3 linked regions of the Homo sapiens genome follow. The protein of the gene in region 1 purifies or fractionates together with the protein of each later gene. This does not show direct contact. Each region holds a gene or a part of one and is shown on either strand. Other genes may lie near its edges.

The links. The genes of interacting proteins can lie anywhere in the genome.
Region 2: the proteins of NT5DC1 (region 1) and OSBPL11 purify together in Homo sapiens (co-immunoprecipitation; one large-scale study listed by IntAct). This does not show direct contact.
Region 3: the proteins of NT5DC1 (region 1) and ACACB purify together in Homo sapiens (affinity purification with mass spectrometry; one large-scale study listed by BioGRID and IntAct). This does not show direct contact.

Annotation. Positions count from the first base shown.
Region 1 is NC_000006.12:116,103,853-116,107,352, reverse strand, and holds part of NT5DC1 (5'-nucleotidase domain-containing protein 1), read right to left. Parts: intron 1,110-3,500; coding exon 1,018-1,109; intron 1-1,017.
Region 2 is NC_000003.12:125,581,998-125,585,497, reverse strand, and holds part of OSBPL11 (oxysterol-binding protein-related protein 11), read left to right. Parts: intron 1-2,519; coding exon 2,520-2,588; intron 2,589-3,500. UniProt on the Homo sapiens protein: Plays a role in regulating ADIPOQ and FABP4 levels in differentiating adipocytes and is also involved in regulation of adipocyte triglyceride storage. Weakly binds 25-hydroxycholesterol. Interacts with OSBPL9 to function as lipid transfer proteins.
Region 3 is NC_000012.12:109,123,087-109,126,586, reverse strand, and holds part of ACACB (acetyl-CoA carboxylase 2), read right to left. Parts: intron 2,442-3,500; exon of another isoform or gene 1-2,441. UniProt on the Homo sapiens protein: Mitochondrial enzyme that catalyzes the carboxylation of acetyl-CoA to malonyl-CoA and plays a central role in fatty acid metabolism.

The DNA.
Region 1 (3,500 bases):
TTGTTCAGGGTAAAACTTCCAGAGTCAGTAATTTCATATAGTAACATGTTACTGTTTCTTCCTTTTACAAAAATGTTACATCAAAAAAGACTAACAAAATATCAAAAGAATGCATACTAGATCAACATAATGTAGGTATTTTTCATGTGGTTTAGTATTGTTATTGATTCTCACTCTGTAGCCCAGGCTGGAATGCAGTGGCATGATCAGCGGCTCACAGCAGCCTGGACCTCCTGGGTTCAGGCAATCCTCCCACCTTAGTCTCTCCAGTAGCTGGAAATACAAGCACGTGCCACCTCACCTGGCTAATTATTTTTTATTTTTTGCAGAGTTGGGGTTTCGTCATGTTGCCCAGGCTGGTCTCCAACTCCTAGACTCAAGCAATCTGCCCACCTCAGCCTCCCAAAGTGCTGGGATTACAGAATTGCCACCACGCCTGCCTGGCCTGATTTTAAACTGAACAATTTAAAGTGGCTTAGGATATTTGTTTGTTTTGTTATCTAAATGAGGAAGACAAACGAAGCTTTGGGAAGCTGAGAGTCCTAACCCAGGAAGGGAATTCCCAGTAAGAGTCTTAGGAATGTCGAACTAAATGACAGAAAAGCAATTGTCCTAATTCAGACTTACTCAAAATGTGATGATTCCTCCTTTTCTCTTATAGTTCTTAAAAGATAGTAAACCAAACCTTTTTCTTAAAGATGCAAATTTTAGAAACAGTTCTTACTAACCTCTGAAACTATTATGACAAACTTAAACTATATGAAAATATCCAAATTAGTCACATAAACTCTTAGCTTATTTTCACATTTAATTAGGCAAGTCTAAACTTGTTTAAAGTAGAAAACACTTTAATTCATTAAATACAAAACTTTTAATATAGAAGGCATTTGTCCTTTGACTCAATCTCACATTTCACATTCCATCTTCTTAGAAGAGAAAGCATTACAGTTTTATCAGTAACAATTAGAACCACAGGAAATGTACAGACTTAAAAAAAAAAAAAAAAAAAGAACTTACCAGAAATCCCAATCCTCTGGGGTCACATTGAGCAATTCCTTATCGTACCCTTTCTCCTTAACTAGGAACTGGGCAAAGCTATTATAAATGAGCTGCAAATAAGGGGAAGAAAAACAGATTAAATATAACACCCACTATTCATTCTTAATGTCACAGACCTAAAACCCTAATGGAATTGCTGATGGGGGCAGGTAGGAGGAAGGAAATATCTGTAATTGTGAAGTTCTGCAGTATAATTCTCCTTCACAAGCAATTTATCATCCCCTGCATGCCCCAGGTAGCTGTCCCATTCAAAATTATACCGTCAGCATACAATTATACAACCAAAGACAATTATTAACCCTACTCCTGAATTCTAATGGGTTGGAGATCATAATTTAAGACTTGACAAAGCTTTTTAAACTTATTTAATACATCACTAAGATGATAAAGATGATGACCACTCTATCCATCCATCCTTGGTCCATTCTGGCCAGAAAGGCCCCATGTCAGGGAAATACATATGGGGACCAGGAAGGTGATCTAAACAAGTCATGATGCCTCTATCAGATACAGGTAATCACTCTTGTTTCTCCACACACACATACACAAAAACCATTAAAAAAAAAAAATCTAAAGACAAAGGACAAAGAAAGCCTCTGGAAGCAAGTACAATAATTACAATAATAAATACTCTGTTGATTGCTGACAGATCTTATTTCTCAACAACAAAAAATGCTAGGTTTTTGAGTAAAATATCTGGTTTTTAAGTGCTGGCTAACTTTAAAAGAACTGTACATACCAAACAAAAAGTGCACAAAAGGTAGATGGTCCAACCTTATTCTACCTCGAAGTGTTCTTTGGCCAGTGTTGGGTAAACTTGAGCCTGAGCAGAACAGTTGTCTGAGTCAACCTGCACAGTGTCCAAAAGGACACACTGAACAATCTGACCCTTCTTCTACAGATATTAACCCACAACAGGTTTCGATAACATGTCATACTTTTAGGGAGAAGAGGGAGGCAGAGGAGCAGGGGAAATCTCTCCTGGGTAGTGAGGTTTACACTGATACTTAGATGCAGCAGTTCGCTGGGTGAATGCAGAGGGAATGGGGGGCAACTCAGGTTCAGAAACTGAGGGGCCTGCACACAGCTGGAGTAGGGGTGTCGGGGTCTGAGTGTCAGGATATGAGCATGGAGAAAGCAAAGGCTCCTTGTGAAATGTCAAATCGAGTTGCTCCCTGTCATAAAGCTAATTAAAATCACTACACATGTACTTCCATCCAGTGCAATGTGACCTTATCCAGGTCAACTGTTAATTGAACCACATTATGTTAACACTATATATCAACAGTTCTTAACCCTGGTGGTGATTCAGAACCATAGGTGACACTTCTTAAAACTACCCAGAGCTTCCAAGCATACAGGGTAGAGAGGGCCCTCTCTGAAGCACAGAGAACACTGAAAATCACTGACCTGCATGTTTTACAGATTTTTATTCAATCATTAAAAGGAAAAAAGCAACAAAAAATACACTGAGTCACCCTGTGGTACAAAGTACTATGGACAATAAAAAGTCCACATCACGATCCTGCTTATAAGAAACCAGTGCTGCAGGGCTAACAGATGTAAAATGCTTAGAGCAGAGCCTGGCACACCAGCAAATCCAATTTAAGTATTTGCTATTATTATGTTGTATGCTGCTAAAAACAAAACAAAACAAAACAAAAAAACAGAAAACAAAAACACTGCCCTGACAGGTAGCGCTTGCCCATCTCCACGGTGTAAATATTCCCACCATGGCCTGTTTCAAGTCACCAACAGCAGTTTACCTGCTTGCACAATTCCTGAATAGTTAACAATTGGCTTTCACAAGCCCCTAAGAGCCAGCTATTGTACACCTTAGATTTGCCTCTCATTGAGGCACTTTTGAGTTTCTCCAGTTATTCAAGTGATTAGTCTAAGATATGGGCATGTAATTCTAAAACACTTGAATTCTCCTGGAAGAAAGGAGCCCTTTCCATCAGAGACGCCAACAGGGACAGCAACAGCTGTGTTCCTTACCTTGTGGAGGAGATTTTTCTGTAACAGGAGAGAAGGGGGCCAATGGACAAGGAAAAGAAGCAGAGAAAAGCAGTGTGAAGAAAAGCAGGGGCATCTGTACTCTGAAACCCCTGGTCTAGGCAGAAGGCTTCTTGCAGTTTGTCCTTAGAGTACGCTGAGTCTCTCTAGAAGCCTTCATGGCACAGGGCTCTCCATGACATTCCTCCCCCAGCCTTAGCTATCACCACCTCACAGTCTCTCAGGAGTAATAATAATACACGTTCTACTGCAGTTGCCAATTGGTACCCTGTGGTCCATATGCAGCCTACAAATTATGTTTGGTTCCCACTTAAGGTTGCCAGATAAAATTTAAAAATGCCTAGGTAAATGTGACTTTCAAATAAAAAACAAATAATTTTTTTTTAGTATAAGCATGCAATATTTGGGACCCCACTCTCCCACTC
Region 2 (3,500 bases), on another chromosome or scaffold:
TTAATAACATTAGAAAATTAAACAGAACATTACTATGATGTGAAATATGAAGATACACTTAGAGCCAGGTACAGTGGCTCATACCTATAATCCCAGCACTTTGGGAGGCTGAGGCAGGCTGATCACTTGAGGCTAGGAGTTTGAGACCAGCCTGGCCAACCCATCTTTACGAAACTCCATCTCTACTAAAAATACAAAAATTAGGTGGGCATGGTAGCAGGTGCCTGTAGTCCCAGCTACTTGGCAGGCAGAGGCAGAAAAATCGCATGAGCCCCAGAGGCGAAGGTTGCAGTGAGCTGAGATCACACCACTGCACTCCAGCCTAGGCAAAAGAGCGAGACTCTGTCGCAATTAAAAATAAAAAAAAGAGATACACGTGGGATCTTTTTAGCGATTGATGTTACTGAAATTGTACACTTTAAAAAATTTGTGGCTCATGCCTGTAATCCCAACACTTTAGGAAGCCAAAGTGGAAAGATCGCTTGAGCCCAGGAGTTTGAGAGCAGCCTGGGCAACATAGTGAGACCCCCCCATCCCCACAAAAATAATTAAAAATTAACTGGGCATGGTTGTACGTTCCTGTAGTTGCAGCTACTCAGATGCTGAGGTAGGAGGGTCACTTGAGCTGTTAAATGAGTGATATAGATAATTAGATATGACCAAAATGGGGAGTACCTTCAGTAATATGAGAGTAGTGACTAAATAAAGATGATGTATTTTGTTTATTGCTTTGAAATAAAAATTTTGTTTTTCTCAGGTATAGGTAAGTATATATAAGGTTTTAAGAAGGTTTTGCCCCATAGTTCACATACATTTGAAGAATACATACAGTCTTAAAGCCAGAGGAATTGAACTGTAACTCAGTTGTGATATTTTTTATTACATGCTAATGGCTATGACTTGACATTTATGTAGTAATGAAAGCTTGGTGTAGAGAACCTAGATTAAAGAGTAGTTCCCAAAATGGCGAATTATGAAATATCTTGGCACTTTGAGAAAATATTTAGGTTGTATACTACCTCAAACCTCTTATGGATTGATGCAGAATGTAAGCAAATATTCAGATTATGGAGCAACTGGACAGAATGGAGAAAGAGTAAGTTTTTCTGTTTTTTTATTTTTGTTTTTGTTTATGATGGAGTCTCACTCTGCCACCCGGGTTGGAGTGCAGTGGTGCAGTCTCGGCTCACTGTAACCTCTGCCTCCTGGGTTCAAGCGATTCTCCTGCCTCAGCCTCACAAGTAGCTGGGATTACAGGCACGTGCCACCACACCTGGCTAATTTTTTGTATTTTTTGTTGAGATGGGGTTTCACCATGTTGGCCAGGCTGGTCTCGAACTCCTGACCTTAGGTGATCCACCTGCCCCGGCCTCCAAAAGTGCTGGGATTACAGGCGTGAGCTGCCATGCCCGGCCAAGAATAAGTTTTTCGGGAAGCTGAGCTGTGTACTAAGTACCTAAAACAGAGGAGGAGCTCTTTAGGGAATTTTTTTGAGACAGAGTCTGGGGCATTGGGTTTTCTATGGCCTCAAAGAGCTGCTTAAGCCTGAAGCCTGGGGAAGATAGGGGAGCCAAACAAAAAATATAGCTCTCTGCTTTTCTAAGCAATGTATCTCAAAATAACTGAAATAAACAACTTGATTGCGACCTGGGCCGGAAGTATAAGAACTCTAGCAGAAACCCAAGTGGCTGTATTTCTACAGAAGAATTCTTTCCTCTAGTTGTGGGCTTTATTTATTATTCTTATTTATTTATTTTACGTATTTAATAAAGAGAGACAGTGTCTCATTATGTTGCCCAGTCTGGTTTCAAACTCCTGGGCTCAAGTGATCCCCCTATCTTGATCTCCCAAAGTGTTGGGATTACATGTGTGAGCCACTGCACTCAGCCCTTTTTTTTTTTTTTTTTTTTTTTTTTGGAGACGGAGTCTCACTCTGTTGCCCAGGCTGGAGTGCAGTGGTGAGATCTCAGCTCATTGCAGCCTCCACCTCCTGGGTTCAAGTGATTCTCCTGCCTCAGCCTCCCAAGTAGCTGGGACTACAGGCACACACCACCACGCCCGATGAATTTTTGTATTTTTAGTAGAGATGGGTTTTCGCCATGTTGACCAGGCTGGTCTTGAACTCCTGACCTCAAGTGATCCTCCTGCCTTGGCCTCCCAAAGTGCTGGGATTACAGGTTCGAGCCACTGTGCCCGGCCATCCCACTTATAATACTTATAGTATATTTGTTTTATGTTTATGTAATTTTATATTTGTATAATGATTTTACATTTGGAATATTTATAATAATATATAATTTATGAGGTATTGTACTTGTTTTGAGGAAATTGATGAAGTCCTATAGATATGAAATTTGGGAGATTAAATGCCTCTGTTGACCTATACATTTTACTTCTCAATAAAATTTGAGGCATTTATAGAGCATATATGTATCTGCAGCTATTTTGAAAATTGTACCATTATCCTCCTGGGATTTCTTCTAATTTTTACTAACTTTGGCTTTTTCATTTTGAAATAGTGATCACATGGAAAATGTGTATGGCTATTTAATGAAGTATACCAACCTTGTCACTGGGTGGCAGTACAGGTAAGTGTGATTATTTGTGTCACATCAGTCTCTCCTAAGAGAGCAGGAATAGGGCCCAATAATTTTATATTTTGATATTACTTTAGACAGACATGGCTGGGAAACCTTTTAGAGAAGGATTTCCCACAGCTTCTAAAAGTTTGGTGACTTCTTCTTAGAGGGTGGGAAAAGTTGACATCTGTCCAAGTAGCAGCCTCTAAATGCCTCAGATGTTACTATTAAATGAGGATTAGAATCACTTGTTACCTGGCTTGGGCATTGTATACTTGCAGAAGTTAGGTTCTTAGGGGAAGAGAAATAGGGGTTTGGAGACAGCAAACACATTTGTGTTAGGTTCCCATCTTATGCCAGATTCACAGCTTCTCTGGGATCTTGAAGAGGTTAAGTAACCAGCCAAGGGTCACACAAGCTGTCAGGAAGCAGGAAAACCAGCTATCTCAAATACTTTATAGAATTGTAGTTGTGGGGCAGGCATATTAAACGGGATCAAATTGTCTACCAAGTTCTATTATAGAACAGGCTAACGTAGAATGCCAGACTTCTCCAAACCCAAACATGAATTTTTTTTTTTTTTTTGAGACGGAGTCTCGCTCTGTCACCCAGCTGGAGTGCAATGGCATGATCTCGGCTCACTGTAACCTCTGCCTCCGGGGTTCAAGTGATTCTTCTGTCTCAGCCTCCTGAGTAGCTGGAATTACAGGCATGCGCCACCATACCCAGCTAATTTTTGTATTTTTAATAGAGACGGGGTTTCACCATGTTGGTCAGGCTGGTCTCGAATTCCTGACTTCAGGTGATCTACCCGTCTTGGCCTCCCAAAGTGCAGGGATCACAGGCGTGAGCCACCACACCTGGCCACCCAACATGAATTTTAAAAGTTTAAAACTTTTTAGAGTTACTTTTTATTTTATA
Region 3 (3,500 bases), on another chromosome or scaffold:
TTAGCCTCCCAAATAGCTGGGACTACAGGTGCACACCACGACATCTAGCTAATCTTTTTTATATTTTGTAGAGATAGGGTCTTTCTGTGTTGCCCAGGCTGGTCTTGAACTCCTGTCCTCAAGCAATCTTCCCACCTCTTCCTCCCAAAGTTCTGGGATTACAGGCATAAGCCACCATGCCTGGTTCAGATCAAATTCTTGATGTGGTGAATCTGCCATCCCAAGCAAAACTGGCCTGAATGGTTCCAGATCGGCCCCTGCCTTGAAGGAAGGTAAGAGGAGCCGTTTTTCCACCTCCAATGGAAAACATGTTCCGCAGTCTAAAGGCCTATCAGTCTGATCTGTCTGGCTAGCCTCTCACTTGAATTATCCCTGCAGAAATTGCTGAAGTCCACTGTTCAGCTCTCCTAAGTTCTGGTCCTTGCCATCTTCACAGGTGGAATCCTATCCTTCTTCGCTTCTCCCCCTGCTGTGCTGTGAATTTGCCTTCTTCAGCCATTCACTCATTCATCAGCAGGTATTTCCTGAGCACCTGCCAGGTGTGGTACACGCTGCTGGAGACATGGAGCAAACAGGCAGGAATGGCCCAGCCCTGCCCTCGTGGGTTTATGATCTCACTGGGAAGCAAATAAAATCACAAACCTGAGGGCACAACCAGGAGAATCGCCATGAACTCGTGATGGATCAGGTTTTGCACCAAAATGTAAGTCATTTTTGAGTGTGAAACCAAGAACCCTCTGGGCGACACAGTGCATTGGTTAGAGCACGAGATCTGGATTCAGGTTCTATTTCTGCTGTTCATTTCCTGTGTGACCTTGAACAAGTTTCCTCACCTCTCTGAGCTTGGGTTTTCTCATGTATACAATGATAAGGAAGTCTTCCTCATACAGTTTTGGAGTTTAAGTAAACTAATACAGATCAAGTCATTGATGAAAGAGTGTGCTACCATTTATGGTGCTCTCCATCATGTACCAAGCATTGCGCTAAGTGATTTACCTAAGATCAAGTTCAAGCCACTGTTATATCTCACTTGGGCCACTGCGAAAGTCTCTTGACCTGTCTCTCTGGCCTGGTCTTGTCCCTCCAGTTCATCATGCACAGAGAAGCCAAGGCGATCTTGTAAAAATTCCACAGACATCGTTAGTGTCCAGATTATAATGTCTCTAAGAACATTTCCCACTGAAAGGAACCAGGACTCCTTGGAGAAATGTCTGATTCTAGGGCTGGGGCAGAAATGTACATGATGAGCTGAGATATCTTCTTGCCTGAAAACAAGGACCCTCCAGGGGCATGGGCTACCAAAGAGAGGCTGCAAACGGATGATGACTGCAGTGGATTGAAACACATCAAAATATCTTTAAAAACCATAAGGTCGTAACACCCCTCAAAACAAAAACAACTCGTTGATACTTTTCATGGCTGCTAGGGCTACTCATTACTCTGAAAATAGACTTAGCCCCGCCCACACACAAAAAAAGGACATAATCAACCATGTACTCTGCCTTTCAGGGACTGTATTTCAGGGTAAGCAAATGCTTGAGGAAAGTCGTGTGGTAGAGAACAATGAGAGTTGGGCCGGGCACAGTGGCTCATGCCTGTAATGCCAGCTCTTTGGAAGGCCAAGGCGGGAGTATCGTTTGAGCTCAGGTTTGAGACCAGCCTGGGCAATGTAGTGAAACCTCATCTCTATCAAAAATACATAAAATTAGCCAGGCATGGTGGCGAGCGCCTGTGGTCCCAGCTACTCAAGAGGCTGAGGCAGGAGGATCGCTTGAACCTGACAAGTTGAGGTTGCAGTGAGCCAAGATTGTGCCACTGCACTCTAGCCTGGATGACAGAGAGAGACCCTGTCTCAAAACAAACAAACAAAACCAGAAACAACAACAACAACAACAAAAAACAACAAGAGCTAATAAGCACAGAAAGATTGACGGAAGTAGAAAATCACTATAGTAACGAAACAATAATCTGGGCTTTGCTCATCAGCAGGCAGTAAAGTCATTCGGCAAGAGGGTGATAGGGAACTTTACGACGGAGGTCAGACTGATACCCTAAACTCACTAATGAACAAAAATCACTAAAAGTGGGGTAACTGAACTTTATGTTCTTGACGTGATGCAAGAGAAAACAGAAAAACACCTTCAAAGTATTCCTGCTAAGGATCTGCACCTGAATTGATTCAAGCCTCTTGACCTAGTACTTATTTATAGGTATAGAAGAACATGTTAGATGACACTTGGAAGATGCAATCAGCCAAATCCAGAATATGGAAAATTCTACGGGACAAATGACCCAGTTTCAATAAGTAACTGGCATTTAATAAAGGGAGTTGCTGATTATTACAGATGAGGAGACTTAAGAGAAACCCTGTGGGTCCTGATTTGAATAAAACCATTCAAAGACATCTTTGAGCCACCTGGAGGACAGTCAGCATGAACTAGGTACTAGATTAAGGAATTATCATTCATTCTGTTAGATAGATATAATTATGGCAATGGTTTAAAAAAAAAACTTGTGTCTTTTAGAAATGTGTGCTAAAGTATTACGGGCAAAACAGTGTGACATCTAGCTGTGAGAATTGCTTGAAAATAGTCTGGGGGCCAGATGCAGTGGCTCACATCTATAATCCCAGCACTTTGGGAGGCCAAGGCAGGAGGATCGCTTGAGCCCAGGAGTTCAAGACCAGCCCGAGCAACATGGCAAACTCTGTTACCTAAAAAATAAAAATTAAAAAAAAAAAATTAGCCAGGCGTGGTGGTGTGTCCCTGTAGTCCCAGCTACTCTGGAGGCTGAGATGGGAGCCCAGGGTAGTAGAGGCTGCAAGTGAGCCGAGATTGTGCCACTGCACTCCAGCCTGGGCGACAGAGTGAGACCCTGTCTCTTTTCTTTTTTTTGAGACAGGGTCTCACTCTGTCACCCAGGCTGGAGTGTAGTGGCACAATCTTGGCTCAATGCAACCTCTGCCTCCCAGGTTCAAAAGATTCTCCTGCCTCAGCCTCCTGAGTAGTTGGGATTACAGGTGCATGCCACCAGGCCTGGCTAATTTTTGTATTTTTTGTAGAGATGGGCGTTTTTCCATGTTGGCCAGGCTGGTCTTAAACTCCTGGCCTCAAGTGATCTGCCCGCCTCGGCCTCCCAAAGTGCTGGAATTACAGATGTGAGCCACCACGCTCGGCCTAAGACCCTGTCTCTTAAAACAAACAAATAAACAAACAAACAAAAAAAACTCTGGAGCTCTAATTAATGACATGCATGTTGAAGTATTCAAGGATAAAGACACTGATATCTGCAATTTACAGGTGACAAATACAGAAAAATGGTAATGGCAGAATCTAATCAGGGGTATATGGGCACCCACTGTAAAATTCTTTCAACTTGTATGTTTAAAAATTTTTTTTTTTTTTTTGAGATGGAGTCTCGCTCTGTCGCCCAGGCTGGAGTGCAGTGGTGCGATCTCGGCTCACTGCAAGCTCCGCCTCCTGGGTTCATGCCATTCTCCT